Homo sapiens: one gene and its partners. The protein of the gene in region 2 interacts with the protein of the main gene of each other region in a pairwise test. Each region holds a gene or a part of one and is shown on either strand. Other genes may lie near its edges. The genes, in order: LIMD2, PSMA6, ZBTB44, ZKSCAN4, PAXIP1, ECT2 and TRIM39.

Region 1 (4,073 bases), on a different chromosome or scaffold from region 2:
GCAGCACTTGCTGGGTCTGCTGGTTACCGCCATTCTTCGCTAACTTACTTCCAGGTCAAAGGGCTGGGAAGAAGGGAGGGAGCTAGACAGCTGGAACCAGCCAGGGAACGCGGCAGCTTGCACCCCAGGCACTGAAGTGCAGCGAGGACAGGCGCCATCACCCACTGGCAGCCTGGCCCTCCCGCTCTCAGGCCTCTTCACAATGGGGTGCATATGGTAAGTTGGTGGGTCTGAACCAACCCAGAACTGAGGGGTGAGGTGGAGTTTCAGTTCCAAAACCACTGTGGGTGTGACAGCATGAAGCCCTCGCTGTGAAGAGGAGCCCTCCCATTTCTCAATGGTGTGTCAGGGAACTGACACCCACTTCTAGCTCCCTGCCCCCATCAGGGCCGAGGTAGTCGGGGCTGGCCCTGTCCCCCCATGCCCGCCCCATGGTGAGTCTGCACCCTTCCTGTGACAGATCCCCCAGCAGGCCACACAATAGAGAATCTGGATCTATTGAAACATGTTTAAAACGGGGTTGGTCACAACAGGATGGGCACAAATGGGAGCGGGGGAGGGGAGTGGGGCCGCACCAGCCCCTGCCAGTGCCTGAGGCTGCAGCCTGGCGAGTGCTTTTGCTTCTGCTTCTCCACGCTGGTGGTTCGAGATGGTCCCAAGCCCCACTGGGGCAGGCCCTGCCTTGCCCTGCAGAGGCAGGGTGGCTCCACTTCCCCATCTCCTCCCCCATGGGCTGCAGGGGCATTTATGATGCCCAACAGGTGGCACTGTCGCGCTCCTTCCTCCCTGTCTCCGTGGCTCAGAAACAGGTTAAGGGTAGAGGTAGATGGGGAGACGTGGGGGCCACACAGTCTCCGGTGGCAGTGAGGGAGCTTGGGACCCTGAGGGGGGCATGCTGACTCCTTGCTGGAGAAAAGGCACCTAGATAGGGGAGCTGGGCTTGGGGGCCTCCCAGGGGGTCCTGGGGTGAGGTGGGGAGGGAGGCTGAACGAAGCAGGAAGCAGGGTGGTGGGCAGACCCCAATCCTGGTTTCCAAACCCTCACCGGCTGCGGGAGAAGGAAGAAGGAAGGAGTCCTGGAGCAGAGCCCTGCCCTGGTCCCCTACGCCTGAGCAAGCCTCATCCCCTTCCCACCTGGCCCCCACGCAAGCCCAGCTCGACCTCCTTCCCACCTTCCCCCTGCCGGCTCCAGGCCTTCCGCAGAGGGGGTGGAAGGTTACAGAGGCCTCAGGCCGTCTTGGTGCCGGGGTCCACCTCCTTGTGGGCCCAGAGCTCCTTGTGCTGCTTGCGGCCAAACCCCTCGTCGTAGTTGCCTTTGCTCTTAAACAGCTGCTGGAAGTGGGGTTTGCAGTAGAACTCCCCGTGCAGCGCGGCGTAGCTGCCCAGGCTGCAGAAGCCAAACAACGGCGTCAGGTCAGGTCAGGTCGGGGCTGGGTTGGCAGGCGAGGCGGGGGCGGGCAGGGCAGGGGCGCACCTGAGCTTGGTGTGACAGTGCTTGCAGCAGAAGCAAGAGTTGTGGAAAATGAGCTTGTCGGCCACCAGCCGCTCCATGGGGTACACGGTCTTCTGGCAGGCGGCGCAGGTCTCCTTCACCTGGGCCCGCAGGCTGAAGGACTGTGCGGGAAGCTCAGCCAGGTGCTGCCCCAGTGCTCATCCCGCTCCCTCACACCCCTCCTCCCGCACACCCGGCCCCAGGCCCCTACCTTGGAGCGCTGCACCGTGCTGCTGCCGCCGCCTTTGGCGTCCTGAGGGAGAGGGGCGGTCAGGGCAGGGGCAGCTCCGGGAGGCCCTGGATCAGGGCTGCAGCCATCAGCCCAAGGCCCAGGGGCGCGCCGCAGGGCACAAAGGGGGCCGGCAAACTCTGATGCCTCTCCCCTTCACCCCAGGCCAGGCTCCTGTCCGGGGGGCCCTCCCACCCAGCCGGGCACTTACATGAGAGGGGGTGGCCTGGGCGGCTCCTGCAGCCTGGAACATGGCTCGTTGGAGGTGGAAGCCTCGGGTGGAGAAGCGGCACCCGCTGGGTTCTGCAAGGGGAAGTCAGTCGGGAGGGCCCCGCCAGCCCGGCCCCAGCCTGCAGGGTGGGGGGTGTTGACAGGCAGGGGCTGGGGGGATTGCGGTTGGGACTTTCCCTAAGTCATTTCCTGTTGCTCTTGGTCTTGCCACTTCCGCCCCTCACCCACCTCCCCCACCCCTGCTCCCCAGGGGCCGGGGTCCCGAGTGGCACCGTCCCTCGGAAGAACAAAGTTAGCGGGAGCGGAGGGGCCGGGGGCTCCCGCGCAGCCGCCGTGTGCGTCCCGCGGGCTGGGACCGCTTGGGGTGAGGGGAGGTCGGGGCCGGCGGGGCCGCGATGAGAAGCCGCTGCCCCGACCTGACCCCGGCCCTCGCTGCCCTGCGCCGCGCCCGGGCGTCCAGGCCTAGGCTGCGCAGCCCCTGGACAGCGCCCGAGGTCCCCGCCCGCCCCGCCCCTCGGCCCCCGACCTGGCCCCGCGAGGACCGGACCCCAGACCCCGACGCCGCGAGCCCCGCCAGCGGGTCTCGGCTCCGCCCAGCCGGGGGCCGGCCCTGAAACGAGGACTCGAGCCTGTGCGCCCCGGGCGAGAGCGGCTCGCAGACTCGCCGGGACCCCACGGGCGGCCCTCACCCCACACCCCTCGGCGCCTCTCCCGGTTCCGGAGCCGGACGCGGCCCCTCCCCCCGCGGCTCTCACCAGGCCCGGCCTGGGCCGCGGGGCGGGATCGGTCTCCGGGGGCGCACGGGTACGAGGAGGGCGCGGGCGCGAGCTGCTGCCGCTACCAGTGGTCCCCGAGCCACCGCCGCCGCCACCGCCTTATCGCTGCACCGCCCCCGCCGGCCCCCGCCCCGCGCCCGCCCATTGGCTCCGCCGCGCCCGGAGCCGCCTTCGGGGCCCCGGCGCCGCCGCCGACCCCCCTCCGCGCTTTGTCTTCCCCTCGCCGCCGTCCCCGCCTTTGTCTGTCCCCCGCCCCGGCTCCGCGCTCCCGGCTCCGCAGCGCCCCGCGGGCCTCGCGCTCGCAGGCCTCGGGTACCGGCCGCGCCGTCTGCCCATCCCGACGGCGGCCCGGCGTGGGGAAGCAACGGTGGCAGGGACAGGATGGAAGGGCCGCGCTCCGCATCCTACTGGGAGGGGACGAGTTCAGGCTGCGGCGGCTGCGGTCGCGGGACACTGGGCGCTCCCGGCCTGGCTCCGGGATAACCGGGCGGGGCCTGGGCCATTCACTGCCTCGGTTTCCCCCGGTTGGCCTCGCGCGTAGGCGCCGGCGCCCCCATCCCCGCCCAGAGCTGTGGGGCCGCAGAGACCCAGCCGGGGCGACCCCGGAGCCTGGCCCGGGGTCCCTCGGGCGGCCGAGTCCTCCCGCCGCCAGGGGCCGCCCCCGCCCCTTTGCGGCCCACGAGGCTGGCGGCGGCGTCCGGGCACGCGGTCTCCAGGCCCGGCCGCGAGGCTGCGGGGAGGAGCCTGCACGAGGGCCCGGCAGCCCCGGCAGCCCCCCCAGCCCTCGGCGCCTCTGCAACCCTGCGACGGGCTGGGGAGGCCGGTATGCGTGGTTCCCGGAGCACCCGTCCCCCGAGGCTCCACGTACTCAAGCGTTTCTGGGGCGGAATTCTGTGGGCAGCAACGGGGGCCCCCTCTCCAACAAGCGCACCTCATTTCTCACGTGGGAGCCGCGGCCCAGAGAGCTGAGGTGACAGAGCTTGGGCCGCAGAGCTGCTCCCTCCCTGCAGCCGCACAGCAGGCCGGAGGCACAGCCGGCGAGAGACGGCCACTCGCTTTGGAGCGGCGGCGAGGCCGGCGCCTTCCCGGGCACCAGGGACTGCGTGGCTTGGCCGGAAATCAGGCTAGAAGCAGCTCCGGGAAGCACAGCCCTTAGCCCAGCGCCTTCCCACACTGTGGCAGGAATAGCACTGGCGGCCCACGCGCTTGTCAGGGAACAGAACAGCTCTCGCCCGACGCCTGGCAGGGGAGCAGGGAGGCTGCAGCTTCCCCAGCGACCAGCTGTTTCCCAGGCTGGCGGACTCCACGGACCGGCTCCGCGTCTCCTCTCCAGCCTTCTGTTCTCT
Region 2 (3,500 bases):
CTAAATTTGTAGTGATTCTGGCTGTGTGTGATGGCTCATGCTTGTAATCCCACTGCTTTGGGAGGCTGAATGGGGAGGATCGCTTGAGCCCAGAAGTTTAAGACCAGCCTGGACAACATGGCCAGAAATCAAGAAACAGTAACAGACAACAAGAGAAAAACCAGCTAAGTCAAAAACTGGTTCTTTGAGCCAATAAAATCATTAACCCTCTGGTAGGTTGGTAAATGCATCCCCAAAATATATCTATGTCCTAGTCCCTGGAACCTGTGAATGTTACCTTATATGGCAAAAGCAGGCAGAGGGTCTTTAGAGATGTGATTTTTTCCTAGAAAAAAAAAAATTCTAGTAACACTTGATCTTCAATCCCACATAGCAACTGGCCACAAAGAAAAAAAAAATCACCTAAGCTGAGCAGGTGTTTTGCAGTTTTCCACAGGTCCCACCATTTCCTGTTATCTTTCACTCAGCCTGTTTTACTCACTGGCATTACTTATCTGGTCTGTGTAAGCATTTGTGTCTGTCATCCCTGAACTAAATAAATGAATACATGCTTATTGCTTAAATAATGCAAAAGGTAAAAGCCACAAAAGAGTATCTTCCCTACCACATAAACTTTTGTCTCACAAAATAAAAAACATTTTACATATAAAAAATGCTTCTCAACAGAGAATGCACCTGTGAATTTGCCAGGATTCATTAAGGGGGCCCTCGTTCTTTATATAGACCAGTGCTGTCCAACAGAAATTTCTGTGATGCTGGCAATGTTCTATATTTGCAATGTCCAATATGATAGTCACTAGTCATATGTGGCTATTGAGCACATAAAATGTGGCTAGTGTAACTGAGCAACTGGATTTTAAAGTTTTTTTTTTTTTGAGATGGAGTCTCACTCTGTCACTCAGGCTGGTGTGCAGTGGAGCAATCTTGGCTCGCCGCAACCTCTGCCTCCCAGGTTCAAGCGATTCTCCTGCCTCAGCTTCCTGAGTAGCTGGGATTACAGGCACACACCACCACACCCAGCTAGTTTTTCTGTATTTTTAGTAGAGACGGGGTTTTACCATGTTGGCCAGGCTGGTCTCAAACTCCTGACCTCAAGTGATCCACCCGCCTCGGCCTCCCAAAGTGCTGGGATTATAGGTGTGAACCACTGCGCTCAGCCAAATTTAAAGTTCTTTGTTAAGAATATCATTCCTACTCTTCCTCTCCTACTTCTCTGAACTTCCCTTCTCAATCTTCTTCACTGCTTTCATCTCTTCAGCCAGCTCCTGAAATACTGGTATTTCCCAGAATTCTATTATTTTCTCCATCCCTGGATGATTTTACCCTAAACCAGAGATTTAGCTATAACCTAGATAATCACTACTAATCTGTCATCTCTAGCTCTGGACTTATAATTACAAATGTCTATTTCTTCAAATACCTATGCCTATTAGCCACAGACATGTCTAAAAATAAACTCTTCCTCTTTATAAACCTGCTTTTCTTACAGTCCTTATTTCATAATTGTATTACTAACCACTCAATTTTTCAAGCTACAAACCTGGGTTATCACTCTTGACTCTAACCTCCTGCCCTTTCCCAAGAAATGTCCATTCTTATACCTAGGATTTGCTTTAACGTACTCTAGAAGAGCGGGGAAAGTGCGTGGGAAAGGGAGAAAACAAGACTGACAAAATATTGACATCAGATGAAGCTGTGTGATGGGTACATGAAGGTCACTGTACTAGTCTATCTACATTTGTCTAAAGTATTCTATAATAAAAATGTGAAAAATAAGCTCAAGAGACCCCTCCACCCTTTCTCTCTTATTACCTTAATTCACTCATTAGGGTTTATATGAATTACTGATACTGAGCAAACCTCTTCTAATTGTTCTTCCTGCCACCAGTCCCCTTTTTATTTTCTTTTCTGAGACAAGGTCTCACTCTGTTGTCTAGGCTGGAGTGCAGTGGTGTGATCGTAGCTCACTGCAACCTGAAACTTTCGGCTCAAGCAATCCTCCTACCTCAGCCTCCAGAGTATGTGGGACAACAGGTGTGTACTACCACACCTGGCTAATTTCATTTTATATATTCTGCAGAGACAAGGTCTTGTTATTTTGTCCAGGCTAGTTTCGAACTCCTGGCCTCAAGCAATCCTCCTGCCTTAGCCTCCCAAAGTGTTGGAATTCCAGGTGTGAACCATCAGTCCCTTTCTAATCCCATTTCTACACTCAACTCTCCTATTATTTTACTTAATTACCTCGCCATTCTTAAAGACCCCTGCTAGCTCTGTTCAAAACACATGGAAAAAAGTCCAAACTCTAGCATGGTACTCAAGCCCCTTCAAAATATTGCTATAATTTACTCTTTCAGTTGTTACTGTCTATACTGCATTCACACTGACTGATCTATGCACTGGTCCCCCAAATTTCCTTATTTAATCTTCATCTGGGCCAATTCATCTCTGAGAAGCCTTTCCCGGCTCTCCTAGGCAGTTAGTCACTTCCTGTAATACCTTTTTTATACTATTTAGTACTCATCAAGCTGCACTGTAATTTCAGTAAAGGCTTGTATAAATGAATCCCCATTTTAACACTACCACCATGAAATGTTTTATAATAATTTCCAGAAAAATGGAAACTGCCAGAGCAAAGAATTTAGACAACTCAACACCTAAAGAGTATCTTTTAAAGAAACACTGGCAGGGTAAACAGTAGTATCATGGTTTAGAGCAGATACGGACAACCTATGGTATATGAAGGCCAATTAAGAAAAAAGAGGCTGGGCATGGTGGCTCACGCCTGTAATCCCAGCACTTTGGGAGGCCGAGGCGGGTGGATCACTTGAGGTCAGGAGTTCAAGACCAGCCTAACCAACATAGTGAAACACTGCCTCTATTAAAAATACAAAAATTAGCCAGGTGTGGTGGCAGGCGCCTGTAATCCCAGCTATTGGGGTGCTGAGGCAGGAGAATCGCTTGAACCCAGGAGACAGAGGTCGCAGCAAGCCGAGATTGCACCACTACACTCCAGTCTGGGTGACAGGGTGAGACTCCATCTCAAAAAAAAAAAAAGAGGCTGGGCACTGCGGCGGCTCACACCTATAATCCCAGCACTTTGGGAATGGAGGCAGGAGGATCAGTTGAGCCCAGGAGTTCAAGACCAGCCTGGGAAACACCAAGATGTCATCTCTACTAAAAATAAAAAGTTATCTGAGCATGGTGGTGTATACCTGTACTCCCAGCTACTTGAGAAGCTGAGGCAGGAGAATTTCTTGAGTGCAAGAGTTTGAGGCTACAGTGAGCTATGATTACACCACTGCACTCCAGCCTGGGCGACAGAGTGAGACCCTGTCTCAAAAAATAAATAGCTGGACGCAGTGACTCACGCCTATAATACCAGTACTTCGGGAGGCCGAGGCAGGTGGATCACTTGAGGTCAGGAGTTTGAGACCAGCCTGGCCAACATGGTGAAACTCTGTCTGTACTAAAAATGCAAAAATTAGCCAGGTATGGTGGTG
Region 3 (3,500 bases), on a different chromosome or scaffold from region 2:
AAAACACCCCTTCATGCTATAAACTCTCCTGAAATAGCCTACCAACCAAAAAAAGCCCAGCACCAGACAGATTCACCAGACAGATTCACAGCTGAATTCTACCAAAGGTACGAAGAGAAGCTGGTACCATTCCTAACAACAGAAAAAGAGGGACTCCTCCCTAACTCATTTTATGAGGTCAGCAACATCCTGATTCCAAAACCTGGCAGAGGCACAACACAAAAAAAGAAAATACCAGGCCAATATACCTGATGAACATTGATGTGAAAGTCCTCAATAAAATACTGACAAACTGAATCCAGCAGAATATCAAAAAGCTTATCCACCAGGATCGAGTTGGCTTCATCCCTGGAACGCAAGGCTGGTTCAACACACGCAGATCAATAAACGTAATCCATCACGTAAAACAGAACCAATGACAAAAACCACGATTATCTCAATAGACGCAGAAAAGGCCTTCAATAAAATTCAACACCCTGGCTGGGCGTGGTGGCTCACGCCTGTAATCCCAGCATTTTGGGACGCCGAGGCAGGCGGATCACGAGGTCAAGAGATCGAGACCATCCTGGCCAACATGGTGAAATCCCATCTCTACTAAAAATACAAAAATTAGCTGGGTGTGGTGGCATGCGTCTGTAGTCCCAGCTACTCAGGAGGCTGAGGCAGAAGAATTGCTTGAATGAGCTGAGATCACACCACTGCACTCCAGCCTGGTGACAGAGTGAGACTCCGTCTCAAAAATAAATAAATAAATAAAAATTAAAAATAAAAATTCAACACCCCTTCATGCTAAAAACTCTGAATAAACTAGGTATTGATGGAACATATCTCAAAATATTAAGAGCTATTTATGACAAATCCATAGACAGTATCATACCGAATGAGTAAAAGCAGAAAGCATTCCCTTTGAAAACCGGCACAAGACAAGGATGCTCTCTCTCACCACCCCTATTCAACACAGTACTGGAAGTTCTGGCCAGAGCAATCAGGCAAGAGAAAGAAAGAGTATTCAAATAGGAAGAGAGGAAGTCAAGGGTATTCAAATAAGAAGAGAGAAGGTCAAATTGTCTCTGTTTGCAGATGACATAATTGTATATTTAGAAAACCCCACTGTCTCTGCCCCAAAACTCAAGCTGATAAACAACTTCAGCAAAGTCTCGGGATACAAAATCAATGTGCAAAAATCACAAGCGTTCCTATACACCAGTAATAGACAAGCAGAGAGCCAAATCATGAGTGAACTTCCATTCATAATTGCTACAAAGAAAATAAAATACCCAAAAACACAACTTGCATGTTCAGCACATGCATCCCAGATCTTAAAAAAAAAAAAAAAAAAAAAGAAAAAGTACATCTTAATCCTTGCTACCAATGTATGTGACCTTATTTGGAAATAGGGTCTTAGCAGATGTAATCAAGTTAAGATGAGGTCATGCTGGATTAGGGTGGGACCTGAATCCAATGACTGGTGTCCTTTTAGGGAGAGAGAGATTTGAAGCCAGTGGCAAAACAGAGAGACAGGGAAGGTCATGTGAAGACGAACGCATATACTAAAGCACAATATCATATACTGGAGCTACAAGCCAAAGAACACCAAGGATTGTGGGCAGCTGCCACAGGCTGGAAGAGACAAGGAAGGATTCTTCCCTACAATCTTCAAAGAGAGAAAGATCCTTCAAAGGGAACTAACACCTGTCGTTCAGATTTCTGGCCTCTGACTATGAGAGAATAAATTTTTTTTAAACCATTCAGTTTGCGGTACTTTGTTGCAGCAGCCCAGGGAAACTCACACAGAGGGTAAAAGCACAAGAAACTAACAAAGTTAATATGGTCTTCCCGGTTCTCCAATATTTTGGACAAATCTTTATTATTCACTAGTGGCTTTTCTTCTATCCCTTCCCAAACCTGAATATAGGTATTCCCCAAGGTATCCCCTTGGTTTTGGCTCTTCTGTTTTTCCTATTGAGATTGAATTTGCCACTACTAGTAGAAAAGTCCCAAGTTGGGAATCTCACTTATCTTTTCTACTGCTTTTGAAATGACACTGCTTGATCATCATCCAAGCACAATTTACACAGAAGTGACCTTGATAATTTACTCTCAAAACTGGATTCCCACCACCTTCCACTGATTTTCATACGGCACTAACTACATTTAATAGATGCTAAAATGCTATTGATTCATATGATTGCCATTATTCTCTATAGCACTAAGGAAGAAAAAAGCAACTGTAGAAGACTGCCAACTGTAAGACATATCTGGATTCAGAAATAACAAAATATGAAAAATTGTGACTTAGAATCAATGGAATATAATAAAGTGTTACCATTATTTCCTAGTCATCAGAGTACTTTAACCTCTCCTGTTCTTTCAATATACATATTCAGTATCATCAGGTACTAAGTCTTTCTTTACAAAGTCTTGTAATATCTATTTTCTTTCACATGGTTTTAAGTCTTCATTCACACCAAGATAAGTGCACTGCAATTGGTCTCTGAGACTGTCTCTGTAAAACCAAACTCACTGCATGTCAATAACAGTTTTCCTAAAATATCTGCATGTTTTTGTTTTTATCCCTTTAATGTAGACTCCTTACTACCTACCACTAAGATAAAATCCAAGCTTACTTGGCCTACTTGTGGCAGACACTGCTAGTTGCATACTCAATATCCATTTTGCTCTAATTTTGTTCAAGGCATTTAGGTACCCAACTAATATACATTATCTTCCCAGATTCCCTTGCAGCTAGGAAAGACTATGTGACACAGACTAGCAGAAGTTTTTTAGGGATTTCTGAGAACATAGGTGCTTTCTTGATACAAAGCATTGCCCCTTTCTAGAATACAAAGCTGAAGATGAAATGAGCATCTTATGGATGAAACCAACAAAGTAAAGATGGCAGTTTATAAATATACAAGTTGCCTAGGCCACTGATTATATTGCAGATTCACTGTACCAGCCCTGGACTTTTATTCCTGAACACTTTGTGATAAAAAATCACAAGCATTCCTGTGCACCAGTAACAGAGAGCCAAATCACGAGTGAACTCCCATTCACAATTACTACAAAGAGAATAAAATACCTAGGAATATAACTTACAAGGGATGTGAAAGACCTCTTCAAGAACTACAAACCACTGCTCAAGAAAATAAGAGAGGACACAAATAAATGGGAAGACATTCCATGCTCATGGATAGGAAGAATCAATATCGTGAAAATGGCCATATTGCCCAAAGTAATTTATAGATTCAGTGCTATCCCCATCAAGTTACCATTGACTTTCTTCACGGAATTGGAAAAAACTCCTTTAAATTTCATATGGAAATTTAATGAGATACCATCTCACACCAGTTAGAATGGTGATCATTAAAAAGTCTGGAAACAACAGATGCTGTTGAGGATGTGGAGAAATAGGAAATGCTTTTACACTGTTGGTGGGACTGTAAACTAGTTCAACCATTGTGGAAGACAGTGTGGCGATTCCTCATGAATCTAGAAAC
Region 4 (3,500 bases), on a different chromosome or scaffold from region 2:
ACTCTTTCCACATTCATGGCAATAATGTCGCCTACTCCCTATGGCATTTTTCTGCTTTCTTTGTAACCTGCCCTCCTGTTCACCAGCTTCTGCATGTGTAGGAATCTGGGCAATGTCTTCCCTCAGGTGGCATATCTTCCCATGCTCCTTTTCTGGAAGCTTCTTGACTGGAGGCAAGTCCCTGCTCTTAGTCTGTATTTCACCACCTGAAACAACAAATGGCCGGCAACTGTGGGTTATGCCCTGCCATGGGAGGAAAGCTCTGTGATGAGTACTAGGGAGACAAGAATTACAGAAGTCTATATATGCCCAGGATGAGGATTTAAGTGCTAGAATAAGAATGGGAATAAAAAGGGAGAACAGGGGTGCTGGGGAGGAAGGAGGCCTGAGAATGAGAATGGGGCCATTGGAAGGGTACAAACTGGGAGTGGAGGGAAAATGGTGAGGACCCAGGACTATGCAGGGGACATATGTGATGGTTCTAAGCTCTAAGAATAGTAAGCAGGGCCATGCACCTAGGATTAGATTTTGAAAGGGGTGAGCAGAGGGTGACAGTAACAGGGCAAGTGGAAGGATTTCTGAAGCACCTGCAAGAAATGGCAAAAGCAAAGAAACTGGTGACTGGTGATCGATCAATGACATGGACCGTCATCTCTAACTGTGCCCAGGCAGAGGCAAAGTTCTCAAACAGAACTGGCATTGGCGCTAGGAGTTCTGAGGTAGAGCCCCCACTGTGCCACAAATAAGCTATGAGATTTCAAACAAGTGAGGTAATCTACGCCTCTGCACCCTCACCCCTAAGGTCAGGGTCTGTAGTTGATGTCTAAGGTTGCTTCTGGCTCTCACGTTCTGAATCCATGGCCCATTTCCTGAAGAGGCCCCCCCCTCCCCGCAGCTTTCCTCTTCAGTCAGGGATAGGAACAAGAGGACATCAACATTTACTGAGCATCTCCTATGAGCCAGACCTGTACAAGGAGTTGTATCAATTTCACCCCACTTATCCTAACTAGAACACTGGCATGACAGAGGAGAAAGCAAGGTCAGAAGGAGTAAGGAGCTAGTAGTCAGTAACAGGCTTTCAGGAATGGTGATTCTGAATCCAAACATAATGGGGGCTTAACAGCTTCTAACAGCCCAATAGGTTCTAATACGCAAAGAATGCCAAGAAATCTTAAGACAAATTAGTGTCTCAGTCTTACCAAGGGAGACCAGGCTGCTATGGTTCTCCTGCTTTTCATCTCTGTAGAGGTTCACCTGAGATGAATCCAGCTGTGTCCACCCAGGAGTGAGGGTCAGGGCCACATCTTCCATTTTCAGCAAACCCTAAAACAATAGGTAGTCCTAACTAGCTCCTCTTGCCCAAAATTACCCCCAAAGCAAAGAATGAACATCCCCTTTAAAGAGGCTCTTTAAAAAGGAGCAAGTGTGGCACACCTACACCAATTTAGCTTTATCTCTAATAACATCTTAATCAAGAAAACCTGCCAAATGAAAGAAATATTACACACATTTTAGGATAAGTACTTTCATATAAATATCTAAACAGTCCAGAAAGTAAAAAGGTTTGGAAGACAAGGGTCAATGCAGCAAAAGGAATGGAACTATGTCCAAAATTTTCAAAAGATTTGCAGTATGCTTTGGCAAAGTGAGAGTAGGGGTTCATTTACATTAATAGCTTCAAAAATACAATGAAATCTAGAACTGAAGTGAGAAAAATTAGGGGAAAAAAAGGATACTACACAGCCTCAAACACTGAGATCTTCAAGCAGGACAGGAAAGGCTGAGTAGTAAATTGAAATCTAGGTTGAGAAAAGATTGTTCATATTGTAATATAAATAACTTCAAGATAACTATGCCTTATCTGACCTTTCAAGTATAAGTTCTTTGAGGGCAAGGGCCAGGCCTTTATATCCCTCACCAACAGCACAGCTTATTGTATCTTAAAAAGCAAAACAGAATGACCATCCCAACAAAACCTTCAGTTTGCTTTTGCGGAACTGCCCTTGTTGAAGGAGAAAAATCACATTGAAGAAGAGGCTGACCGAAGAAATGTAGGAGGAAAGATCTGAGAAGTACAAAGAAAACTCCAAGGTTGTTGTGAAACAGGAAAGTCCTCTTAGGTGGGCACCAAAATGAAGGTGGACAATTATATGCAACTTTGGGATAGATGAGAAAACTCAAATTCATGTAGATCTAGGATAGGGGTGGGGTAGGACTGGGGAGGGAGGAACTTAATGCGGAGCCCAACAGTAGTGAAAGGTATGGGGCGCTGGGGAGGGAGAGGAGCTCCAGCTCACCTGGGACCCTGGAGTGAGCCTGGAAGCTACCATTGCATCTTCTCTGCAGCACCCTCCCTGGGCAAGCCCAGGAACCTGGAGAACTAAGAAAGAAAGAAGCTCTGGATGAGAACTACCCTAGTATTCAGCCTCCCCACCTTGCAAAATCCAAGTTCAAAAACTGGGGCAGTAAGTTCTTGCCAATAAGTTTATACAGAATGTGTTCCTTTCAAAAATGCCTGATTCCCACCAGCTCCAGCCCTAGGGCCGAAAGAAGTCTGGTGCACTCTGCAGATATACAAAAACCACGTGCAGAATCGTTGGTAGGAGTGGTGAAATGAATGCAACATAACAAAGCTTTCCATTTGAAGACCTTTGGGTTTTGAATTTTGCTAGGAGATGGGGAGTAAAGAGGGTTTTTTGTTTTTGTTTTGTTTTGGTTAAAATGTCTTTAGTAGATATTAGGATGCTTTCCACTTCAGGTATGAAAAACTAGGAGGAGGCCAGGCACAGTGGCTCATCCCTGTAATCGCAGCACTTTGGGAGGCTGAGACAGGTGGGTTGCCTGAGTTCCGGAATTCGAGACCATCCTGGGCAACCTGGAGAAACCTGTCTGAACCAAAATTACAAAAAATTAGCAGGTGTAGTGGCATGGGCCTGTGCTCCCAGCTACTCAGGAGGCTGAGGTGGGAGGATTGCTTGAGCCTGGGAGACAGGTTGCAGTGAGACAAGGTCTCACCACTGCACTCCAGCCTGGATAACAGAGTGAGACCCCCATCTCAAAAAAAAAAAAAAAAAAGAAAAAAGAAAAAGAAAAACTAGGAGGAGTCAAATAAGGCTGGGTCCAGAAAGGAGGCAATGGAAGACTGGAAGACTGCTTAAATAGAACTTGCTCAGACTCAGAAGCAGAAGAAACCTTAGGTTTCCCTACAATAAGTCAATTTGCAAGGGGCAGAAAATAAGTTGGTTTAGGCCAGAAACTCTGCTGAGAAATAAAGATTGCATGTTGGATGGCATGTCCAAGTGTTGTATGTCTTAGGAATCGGCCCAGATGTTCACAGCAGATGAGGAACAGCATGGAACACACAGCTGCTTCCTATTAAGTGATTTTCACTCTTCTAGTCACAGGCTTTACAGGGTTTAGATTTACACTCTTCTATTTGCAGCAGTCCTACTATCTCTGGAATGTTCTGGCTGGCTTTACAAATTCTGCCTTATTTTCTT
Region 5 (3,500 bases), on a different chromosome or scaffold from region 2:
TTCTTTGAATAACTTATTTCTCATAGATGTATTTATTAAATTTGTGTACTTATTTTTAAACATTATAGTAAAGAAAAGTTCTCTAGAGATGTGCTGTGGTTCACAGGAGGAAGACCTCCAGTGGCAATGTCCAAGAAGGAAGCCAAGAGGTAAATGGGATGCAGGGTGAGCCCAGCTCCCCTGGAGGCGCACTTCCCACCAAATCACCTGGTAGTTCCCTTGAGCAGGTCCGTGTGTTATGCTTACTTGGACTGATTTACTTTTCCCTTAAAGTGTACCTTAAAGAGTGGAGAAACGTGTGCCCGTTTTAAGGATTCTTCCAAGCTGAAAGAGAAAAGTACTTCTGCCTCAGCATCTCGGAGAATGTAGTTCTGCTCATCTGGAAAACAGAACAGCACATACTCTGAAAAGTGTGGACACGTGAAGTGTGGCAAGTGTGACCCACAAAATTCTCGCCCATATTCAGGTACATAATATTACAGCTACATTTACCTGTACAGCCTTCGGATATTTAAATGTCACCATTATATTTCATTTACTTCCCTCTAAAAACAGCCAGACCAAAAAGACAGACAGGTATTTTTTCTCCTAGATCAGTGGTAATTAACCATTTGGGGTCATAAACTCTTGAAAAAAACGGGCTGGGTGTGGTGGTTCATGCCTGTAATTCCAGCACTTTGGGAAGCCGGGGAAGGAAAGCTGCTTGATGCCAGGAGTTCGAGAACAGCCTGGGCAACACAGTGAGACTTCATCTCTACAGAAAAATTTTAAAATCAGCTTGGCATGGTGGCATGTGCCTGTAGTCCCAGCTACTCGGGGGACTGAAGTGGGAGGATCGCTTGAGTCTGGGAAGTTCGAGGCTGTGGTGAGCCATCATTGCACCACAGCACCCCAGCCTGGGCAACAAAGTGAGATCTGGTCTCAAAATAATAGTAATTTTTTTTTTTTTAACAACAAAAATGTAAAAAAAGAAAAAAAAAATTACTGAAAAATATGAACCCTCTTCCCATAGCTGCTCCTCCCCTCTTTACCCCCCGACTATTTTAGGAAGTTCACCAACTTTCCAAGCCCGCAGATCTCAGGTTAAAATCTCCAGTCCTAGAAAGACAAGCTTCAAATAATCCCATCCAAGTGTATATTATATATATATATGTTATATATATACACTAACTCCTCAAGGACTTGTAGGACATTGGAGTCATTTGGCTCATAATCAATTATGTGAATTACCAAACTTTAAAGATTTACCAAACACACATTCAAGTATATAAAAGTATACAGCAATTTATAAAGGATAGTTTTATCAATTTTTAAAGACTTCTGACAATTATTAATAATTGACAGATTTTCAGTTTTCATAGCAACATTTTAAGAAATGTGTCAAAAGGTAAAGATCACAAAATGTTTCAATCTTCCTATAAATATGCCTCATATTCAGAAAACCATTTCTCCTCCGCCGCCATTTCCTACCAACCATACAGCATAATAAGGCAGCTCAAACCCAATAATATATACATCAAAAGCAGAAAACAAGGAAAAGTGATTTGGGATTGGCAAACTGGGGTTGACAAGATGATACATATTTTAGGATTTGTGGGCTATGTATTATTTCTCCTGCATATTCCTCTTCTCTTTTTTAAGCAATATTTAAAAAATGTAAAAACCATTTTCAGCGTATGGACCAGTTTGCTGACTGCTGGGCAGGAGCAACCACATCATGACAGAAATGCAGGGATCTGTTCACCAACGGCCAGAAATACAAAATCAATCCCTGAGTCAACCAGCAGATAGAAAGGCTGCTTTTTAGGTGAAAGGAGAAAAAGAATGTCTAAAATTTGGAAAAACAAAAAATGATGAATTAAAAAAGGAACAAAAAAAGTACTGTTACACATGAGATGGTATATTTGAAGTGTTACTTTCAAAGCTGATATGCCTTCTGAAGAACTTGTGTGAGATCACCAAGAATAGTTAATGTTTATGATAGAGAAAACACCACCGGGCGCGGTGGCTCACGCCTATAATCCCAGCACTTTGGGAGGCCGAGGTGGGCGGATCTCTTGAGGTCAGGAGTTCAAGACCAGCCTGGCCAACATGGTGAAACCCTGTCTCTACTAAAAAATACAAAAAAATTTAGCCAGGCGTCGTCGTGGTGGGCGCCTGCAGTCCCAGCTACTAGGGAGGCTGAGGCAGGAGAATGGCTTGAACCCAGGAGGCAGAGGTTGTAGTAAGCCAATGGCACCACTCTACTCCAGCCTGAGCAACAGACTGGGTGAGACTCTGTCTTAAAAAGAAAAGAAAGTAATATTGAAAAATACAGTAATACAGCTAAGACGATCCTGTCACAGATGAGACATTGAGATTTTGGTTTTTTCAAACAGGGTTATGTTACCTTAGTAGTAGCAATGTAAAGACTCAACCTGAACATTAAACTTTTCATGGAAGTACAAAAGAAATGAGTATCCTAGAAATTGATTATAATATTGATGTCTCAAATTTTATGTAAGTTACACATAAATATAAAATCCCAAAAACATGCACCTACCAAAACAGGTGGAGAAAAGAGTGTTTTCAACAAATGATGCTGGAACAACTGCACATCCATATGCAATAAAAGGAAGCTGGACACAGACTTTACCCTCTTTTAAAAAAAACTGACCCAAAAATGGAACACAGACCTAAATGTAAAATGCAAAACTATGAAACTCCTAGAAGATAACACAGGAGAGAATCTAAGGGACCTTGAGTTTGGCAATGACTTTTTAGATACAACACCAAAGACACAATCCATGAAAGAAATAAGAAGTAACCTGGACCTCACCTATTAGAATGGCCAAAACCCAGAGCACTAACACCAGCATATGCTGAGGAGGATGTGGAGCAACAGGAGCTCCCATTCACTGCAGGTGGGAATGCAAAATGGCACAGGCACTTCAGAAGACAGCCTGGCGGTTTCTTACAAAGCTAAACATACTCTTACCATATGATCAAGCAATTGCAACCTTGTTGATTTACCAAAAGGAGTTGAAAACTTACGTCCACACTAAAACCTGTACATGGATGTTTTAGCAGCTTTACTGCTAACTGCGAAAATTTAGAATCAGCTAAGATGTCCTTGTGTAGGTGAGGGGCTGAACAGATACATTCTGACAATGGAATATTATTTAGTGCTAAAAAGAAATGCTTTATGAAGCCATGAAAAGACATGGAGGAAGCTGGGACGTATATTGCTAAGCAAAGGAAGCAAATCTGAAAATCCTATATACTGTATGATTCCCAATATGTAACATTCTGGAAAGGGCAAGACTATAGAAAGAATAAAAGATCAGTGGTTGCCAGGGGTCAGCAGGCAGGAAGGAATGAGTGGGTGGAGCACAGAGGATTTTCAGGGCAGTGGAACAACTCCATATGACGCTGTAAAGCAAAATCATGTCCTTACACATTTGTTAAAACCCAATGACTGTTCAAGGCCAAGAGTGAGCCCTAATGTAACTATGGACTTT
Region 6 (3,500 bases), on a different chromosome or scaffold from region 2:
TTAAGAAAGCTCAGGTTACTTAGGGTACCAAAAAATTATATATATACAGGGTACCAAAAACAAAAATTACTAATTCAAAGAATCAGAGATTTTTATATCTTTTTACATCTTTCACGTGTGTGTGTGCGTGTGTGTGTGTGTGTGTGTGTGTGTGTGTAGATATACACACACATTATCTTCACAGGAAAAATTCTCAGGGCTTTATAAACATTTACTATATGTAGAACTTTAAACGCAGGAAAGGGCTCAACCAAAGTCACCGAGTACCTGAATTTACAAACGTATTTCTTAAGAACAAAATTTCAATAGATTGAAAGAATTTTGTAGTGTAAGGATAAGTCAGAACATAGTTAAACGTTTGCTGCCATCTTGTGGCTAATTTTACTTATGAATTTCTTCCATATGTTATTATATTTCAGTTCTAGTACTATTAGCCATCATGTGGCTAGTAATTCAATAGATTATAAGAAAAATTTTCTGTTAATGTTTCATTTCAGTATTAGGGTTATAAGTTTGGAAAGGACTCTATAAACTATCTAGTCTGACATTCTGATAAGAGCAGGAGTAATTTCTGCATTAAGGAACTTCTACAGATAAAACCATTTTATATATGGATACCTAGAAAAAGTGGATGGATACCTACAAAAAAAAACCTTACAATGAGCAGTTTTGAAAGATTTATAACAAAAGTGGTCTCCATCATTTTTCTAGCTAGCATTCTATTGTATTTGTTAGCATTGTATTTCCCTCTCTGAATCTTTTGTGCAACAATTTTTTATTTATAAGAACATATTATTGGTCCATAGAAATCTAAACACACACACACACAAACAAAAAGTCTGATTATTGTTCTAAATACTTTGGAAGGAGGTTTTCATCAATGAATACTTACTTTATAAACCACATTAAACCTAAATGTCTTCCAAGGTTTCACACTTAACTGTAATTACATGTTTCATTCCCACAGAAACACCCAATGCAATCTCAGTTACAGTACCATTGTACCGAAAAGGGTCATCTATTATATCCATATATTCTCTTCAATCTATGTCATTTGTGCAAAGAGTAAGAGGTCTATATCTGTCTATCACATGTGTCTCTCTCATATATAGAGAGGAAGAAATCAAATTATCTTTTAGGGACCTGGATTTCATCCAGGGATACCTGATTTCAGGCAAGTCATTTAACTTCCCTATTTTGATTCTCTCATCTATTTTCACTTTAATCTGTATAGTATAATGATAATTATATATTTATGATAGCATTTCATTTTTAAGAGGTTCACATGAGAAAAATAGATTGGCAACTTTCATTTTCAACTTGCTTTCAATAAGATTTTTTTTTTTTTTTGGCCAGGCACGGTGGCTCACGCCTGTAATCCTAGCATTTTGGGAGGCCAAGGTGGGCAGACTGCCTGAGCTCAAGAGTTCAAGACCAGCCTGGGCAACACAGTGAAACCCCATCTCTAAATACTCTCTAATTTTTAGCCATGTCTAAGAGTATCAATGAAAAATCACAGGGTACATTACAAGAAGTCCCAAAATCTTCACTGAATCAGAGCCACAGGGGCTATAAGACTATGAGGGCCTACCTTATGTAAGCCAAGAACTCAAATAATATTTTGTGTACCTACACTATATAAAATATTTTCTAAAACAACTTATTACATCAGTTTTTTTAATATACACAAAACTAAAACTCTCCATTCATAATAAACAAGTCATTAAAAATGTACAGGTTTAGTCTGAATGCACTGTCATGAAATTTAAACTTTCATTATAATACTGTTTTAAGAACTTACAGCATCTGCTTTACAAATGGTGTTAGCTACATGTCGACACAGCATCTTTAGCCAGTTTTCTTTTGGAAGTTCATCTGATGTCATCTGGAAACTGAGTAGCACATTTGCCTGCTCTGTTGGTGGCCTCACAAGCAAGGCAAAAGCATTATGGCAATCTAGGGTTCCAGAATAACCATAAACATTAAGTGTCACTCCTTGGAAAATGACAGATGTATGCAAGTTTAGTTCCCTCAGAGCAATGAAATTCCAATGAAATGAACTATCACTTCTCCACTTTCCTTGTCCTATTTTTAATAAGACAAAGAACATCACCATATTAAGTTGAAGTACTGAAAACACAATATAGTATACCACGTAAGGAACTAATGATGATGATAAGTTAATGACATTAAGTAAACAGTATTATCCATGTCATTTAATATTTTCTATGATAAAAATATTAAGTGTTACAAAAGTTGCACGATCAAGATGCTAAAATACAACCTATTTTAAACAAAGTCTGCCATAATTAAAATCCAAAAATGAAGATTTTTAAAACAAATATATAGTCAGCCTTCCGTATCTGTGGGTCTGCATCTGTGGATTCAATCAACTGCTGACCGAAAATAGTAGAAAAAAACAGTAGAAAACAGATTGTATCTGTATTGAAAATGTACAGACTTTTTATTCTTGTCATCATTCCCTAAACAATATAGTATAACAACTGTTTACACAGCATTTACACTGTGTAGGTACTATAAGTAACCTAGAAATGACTTACAGTACATAGGAAGATGTGTATAGGTTACATGCAAACACTATGCAATTTTACATCCAGGACTTGAGCATCCCAGATTTTGGTAACCAAGGGAGGTCCAGGAACCGTCCCCCGTGGATACCAAGGGACAACTATACTATGTAACCTTTAATAAATCCAGAATTTGTCAACTAAGTGAAAAGAGCAGGAAGTTGCTGTTCAAGTTTTCTTTAAGAATCATTTCTTGGCGGGGTGCAGTGGCTCATACCTGTAATCCCAGCACTTTGGGAGGCCGAAGTGGGTGGATCACTTGAGGTCAGGAGTTCAAGACCAGCCCGGCCAACATGGTGAAACCCCGTCTCTACTAAAAATACAAAAAAATTAGCCAGGCATGACAACACACGCCTGTAATCCCAGCTACTCAGGAGGCTGAGGCAGGAGAATCCTGGCGGGAGCTGCAGTGAACCAAGTTTGCGCCACTGCACTCCAGCTTGGGTGACAGACTAAGACGTCATCTCAAAAAAAAAAAAAAAAAAACCCACAAAAAACAAAGAAAGAATCATTTCTTATAAAGGAAAAAAAAAAAAAAAAGAATAATTTCTCACAAACTGAAACCTTTCATTATTAGAGGAATCAGTAATGGAAAGAGCTAAATATTGTAAAAACATATGCCTAACATCCAAAATATGGCCATGCACATACACCACTGGGTGTCAATTAAACAGATGACACTGTTGTAGGTAGGTATAAATTTTCAGCAATTTCAGGCCTTCAGAGAACCTGCTCTGTAACACTACCAAAGTTTAGAGTAAAACATTCCTTAATACACATATGACTCCATATCAAGTCTACCAGTTACTCTGAGTTTATTTATTGCACCCACATCTATTCCTGACCCGTACCTTAAACATAGCCCTAAAAATGCAACTGTTGGCCAACAGTGAAAGTGTTAAGATGAGGGGT
Region 7 (3,500 bases), on a different chromosome or scaffold from region 2:
GGCTCACTGCAAGCTCTGCCTCCCGGGTTCATGCCATTCTCCTGCCTCAGCCTCCCAAGTACCTGGGACTACAGGCGCCCACCACCACACCCAGCTGATTTTTTTTTTCTATTTTTAGTAGAGACAGGGTTTCACCGTGTTATCCAGGATGGTCTCGATCTCCTGACCTTGTGATCTGCCCACCTCGGCCTCCCAAAGTGCTGGGATTACAGGCGTGAGCCACCGTGCCTGGCCGCCCAGGCCTGTGTTTTTGAATATCCAGCAGAACATTAGAAAATGTTGCAGGTCAGTTCACTATGCCGGATTGTCTCACACATTGGAGGAGTGCTTGCGTCATTGTCAGGAACTTCCCCAACCATGGAAAACAAGAAGATGTGCCTATTTCCAAAATATCCTCAGAGTGTGTTAACAGCTTCATCAAGAACCACTGCCCTAAAATATAGAGTGAAAAAAAGAGAAAAGATTACCGGTTTATAAGAGGAAGGGCCTTTTTGCTTCCTATTTATCACAGTCATGAATGTTAAACTTACACCCATACCTAAACAAACACACATGCATGCACACACATGTGCAAACACACACACACAAAGGCTGTGTTTTATTGAGGGCAAATGTGAGAATATATTTTGTTCAGATGTACACTGAGAAGGCAGTGGTGGAAAGTGAAGCAGCAAGTGGCCCTAAACTAGAAGAGCTAGTCAGCCTCTGCCAGGAACTAGCTTGAATCCACAAATGCCACGCTTGTCAGGCCCATCCTGGCTTTGCATCCCCACTCTCTCTCCACCCTCAAGCCTGCCTTTCATTCCCTATCCACTTCCTTCTAGAGTCCCAGTCTCTGCTTCTCACTTTGCTTCATCATCAGTCACATGATGCTTGGGGAATTCTTTAGGGAGATCACTATTTGTTGTAGTGGAGATGCAGAAGAGAGGATGTGCTGATAATTCTCAGAAAGTGTTATGGCTGGTGTTTGAGTCCTATATTATCAAATTTCAGGAATGTTAGAGGCTTAAGTCTGTGTGCTGGCTTAAAGAAAGCATGTTTCAAATTTCAAGAAACTAAATTACTAACAAACTTCTGTAACCTGTTCCTGGGGTAGGAATTGCCAGTTCTCTGAAGTGACTTGAAACAATTTAACAAGTTCAGCCCTGAAATCTACATATGTATATTTTATAATAACCCATATAACTCTTACTGATTCTTACACTTTCCCAGTTCTCTGGTTTTTATCTGGTGCATGTGTTGCAATATGCAAAGGATGACAATCTTATTTTTAACTTTTTATTATTTGTACTTTCCTTTTTGTTTCGTTGTTTTTTGTTTGCTTGTTTTGAGACAGAATCTCACTCACCCAGGCTGGAGGGCAGTAGTGATCACAGCACACTAACTCAAACTCCAGTGTTCAGGCCATCCATCCTCTTGATTCTTTTTGAGTAGCTAGGACTGCAGATGTGCATTGCCATGCCCGACTAATTTTTTTTTCTTTTTAGTTGAAACAAGGTCTCACTATGTTTCCTAGGTTGGTCTTGGCCTCAAGTGATCCTCTCACCTGGGCCTCCTAAGCACTAAGTTTACAGGCATGAGCCACCATGCTGAGCCTATACTTTCCTTTTCTCGACAGATTGAATTAACTAGAACTTTACAGTTGATAATAACACAGATATCTCTGATATCTGTAATAGTTAATGTCATCATATTATTGAGTTCTTTATCTTAAATTAAAACAAATATATATATCCGCAGTGGTCTTCACTACCAAGTCATCAGTAGGGGGGTGATAGTGATGGAGCCATTCTTTACAGAAGGAAATTCCAATGGAATAAAAAATGAGTGTTCTGTTAAACCATTTTCTCTCATTTTCTTTCTTTCTTTTCTTTCTGTCTTTGTCTTTCTGTCTTTCTTTCCTGTCTGTCTGTCTTTCATCTCGATCTGTTGCCCAAGCTGGAGTGCAATGGTGCAACAATTTCAGCTTACTCCAACCTCTGCCTTCTTTGCTCAAGCCATCATCCCACCTCAGCCTCTCCAGTAGCTGGGACTACAGGCATGCACCACCAGACTCAGCTAATTTTTTGTATTTTTTGTAGAGTTGGGGTTTCACCATGTTACCTAGGCTGGTCTCAAACTTCTCATCCCAAGCAATCCACCTCCCTCGGCCTCCCAAAGTCCTGGGATTACAGTCATGTGTCACCACACCCAGCCTTTGTTAAACCATTTTCAATGAAACTGGAAGTCTGTGTTAATTCATACATATGGTGGGTGAGAGAAAGGCTTCCTTATACCACACTGACCCTGCTGATACAACATCTTCCCTCTCTTCTCAGAGACTAGTGGAAAGTCGCCGACAGCAGATCTTGAGGGAGTTTGAAGAGCTTCATAGGCGGCTGGATGAAGAGCAGCAGGTGTTGCTTTCACGACTGGAAGAAGAGGAACAGGACATTCTGCAGCGACTCCGAGAAAATGCTGCTCACCTTGGGGACAAGCGCCGGGACCTGGCCCACTTGGCTGCCGAGGTGGAGGGCAAGTGCTTACAGTCAGGCTTCGAGATGCTTAAGGTTCGACCTTTGCCCCTGCATAGCCCCTCAGGCTGAGTGCAGCGTAGCTTTGCGTAGCCTGGGATTTGTCAGCCTGGGATACTCATTCTTCTGCTCTCCTTCTCTAAATCCAGTTCTTTCTGCCAGGTGTACTCAAAGGGTCTTTGCTACGGAAAAGTGATTTCTCCCATCCCCTTCTAACCATTTTTGTGTTCTTATCTCTGGTCAGCAATTATGTGCTTAATCTGTTCCAAAGAAAAGATTCATTCTTTTGAAAGGAGGGAAGTCTAGCCTGAGTTAGTGAAAAACTATGCATTAAAAATTTTGTAAATGCAGTTACCATTACTTTTAAGTCCTGAAATTTGATTTATGTACTGCTGAAAAAGGACAGAAACATAGTTTAAAGGATACAGGCATACCTCAGAGATATTGTGGGTTCAGTTCCATACCACTTCAATAAAGCGAGTATCTTGATAAAGCAAGTCACATTAATTGTTGGGTTTCCTAGTGGAATCATATTTTTGCTGGTGGAGGGTCTTGTGTTAGTATTGACTGATCGAGGTGGTGGTTGCTGAAGATTGGGGTGACTGTGGTAATTTCTTAAAATAAGACAACGACGAAGTTTACTTTCAACTCTTCCTTTTATGAAAGATATCTCTGAGCATGTGATGCTGTTTAATAGCATTTTACTCACCAGTAGAACTTCTTTGAAAATCTTTGAAAACCCACATTTGCAGTTACTTACAACATGGGAGTCTTGAACCCCTAAAAGTCATCCATAAGGGTTGGAATAGACTTCTTCTAAATGCCTGTTAATATTGATATTTTGGCTTCCTTTCACAAATCACAAATGTTCTTAATGGCATCTAGAATGGTGAATCCTTACCAGAAAGCCTTCAATTTACTTTGCCTAGATCTATCAGAAAAATCACTATTTATAGCAGCTTTATGAAATACATTTATTAAGACTTG

What was found.
Region 1: the proteins of PSMA6 (region 2) and LIMD2 interact in binary tests that used the Homo sapiens proteins (3 or more experiments, as listed by UniProt).
Region 3: the proteins of PSMA6 (region 2) and ZBTB44 interact in binary tests that used the Homo sapiens proteins (3 or more experiments, as listed by UniProt).
Region 4: the proteins of PSMA6 (region 2) and ZKSCAN4 interact in binary tests that used the Homo sapiens proteins (3 or more experiments, as listed by UniProt).
Region 5: the proteins of PSMA6 (region 2) and PAXIP1 interact in a two-hybrid assay, tested with the Homo sapiens proteins (one large-scale study listed by BioGRID).
Region 6: the proteins of PSMA6 (region 2) and ECT2 interact in a two-hybrid assay, tested with the Homo sapiens proteins (one large-scale study listed by BioGRID).
Region 7: the proteins of PSMA6 (region 2) and TRIM39 interact in binary tests that used the Homo sapiens proteins (3 or more experiments, as listed by UniProt).

The regions. Positions count from the first base shown.
Region 1 is NC_000017.11:63,697,326-63,701,398, forward strand, and holds the start of LIMD2 (LIM domain-containing protein 2), read right to left. Parts: upstream 2,801-4,073; 5' UTR 2,707-2,800; exon of another isoform or gene 2,478-2,706; intron 2,024-2,477; 5' UTR 1,974-2,023; coding exon 1,932-1,973; intron 1,745-1,931; coding exon 1,703-1,744; intron 1,614-1,702; coding exon 1,474-1,613; intron 1,387-1,473; coding exon 1,227-1,386; 3' UTR 1-1,226. UniProt on the Homo sapiens protein: Acts as an activator of the protein-kinase ILK, thereby regulating cell motility.
Region 2 is NC_000014.9:35,298,882-35,302,381, reverse strand, and holds part of PSMA6 (proteasome subunit alpha type-6), read right to left. Parts: intron 1-3,500. UniProt on the Homo sapiens protein: Component of the 20S core proteasome complex involved in the proteolytic degradation of most intracellular proteins. This complex plays numerous essential roles within the cell by associating with different regulatory particles.
Region 3 is NC_000011.10:130,255,918-130,259,417, forward strand, and holds part of ZBTB44 (zinc finger and BTB domain-containing protein 44), read right to left. Parts: intron 1-3,500. UniProt on the Homo sapiens protein: May be involved in transcriptional regulation.
Region 4 is NC_000006.12:28,245,770-28,249,269, forward strand, and holds part of ZKSCAN4 (zinc finger protein with KRAB and SCAN domains 4), read right to left. Parts: intron 2,381-3,500; coding exon 2,298-2,380; intron 1,324-2,297; coding exon 1,200-1,323; intron 207-1,199; coding exon 1-206. UniProt on the Homo sapiens protein: May be involved in the transcriptional activation of MDM2 and EP300 genes.
Region 5 is NC_000007.14:154,947,625-154,951,124, forward strand, and holds part of PAXIP1 (PAX-interacting protein 1), read right to left. Parts: intron 1,867-3,500; exon of another isoform or gene 1,674-1,866; intron 467-1,673; exon of another isoform or gene 380-466; coding exon 279-379; exon of another isoform or gene 274-278; intron 150-273; exon of another isoform or gene 69-149; intron 1-68.
Region 6 is NC_000003.12:172,806,226-172,809,725, reverse strand, and holds part of ECT2 (protein ECT2), read right to left. Parts: intron 1,957-3,500; coding exon 1,802-1,956; intron 1-1,801. UniProt on the Homo sapiens protein: Guanine nucleotide exchange factor (GEF) that catalyzes the exchange of GDP for GTP. Promotes guanine nucleotide exchange on the Rho family members of small GTPases, like RHOA, RHOC, RAC1 and CDC42.
Region 7 is NC_000006.12:30,333,427-30,336,926, forward strand, and holds part of TRIM39 (E3 ubiquitin-protein ligase TRIM39), read left to right. Parts: intron 1-2,318; coding exon 2,319-2,549; intron 2,550-3,500. Other genes in the region: TRIM39-RPP21 protein, read left to right, coding at 2,319-2,549.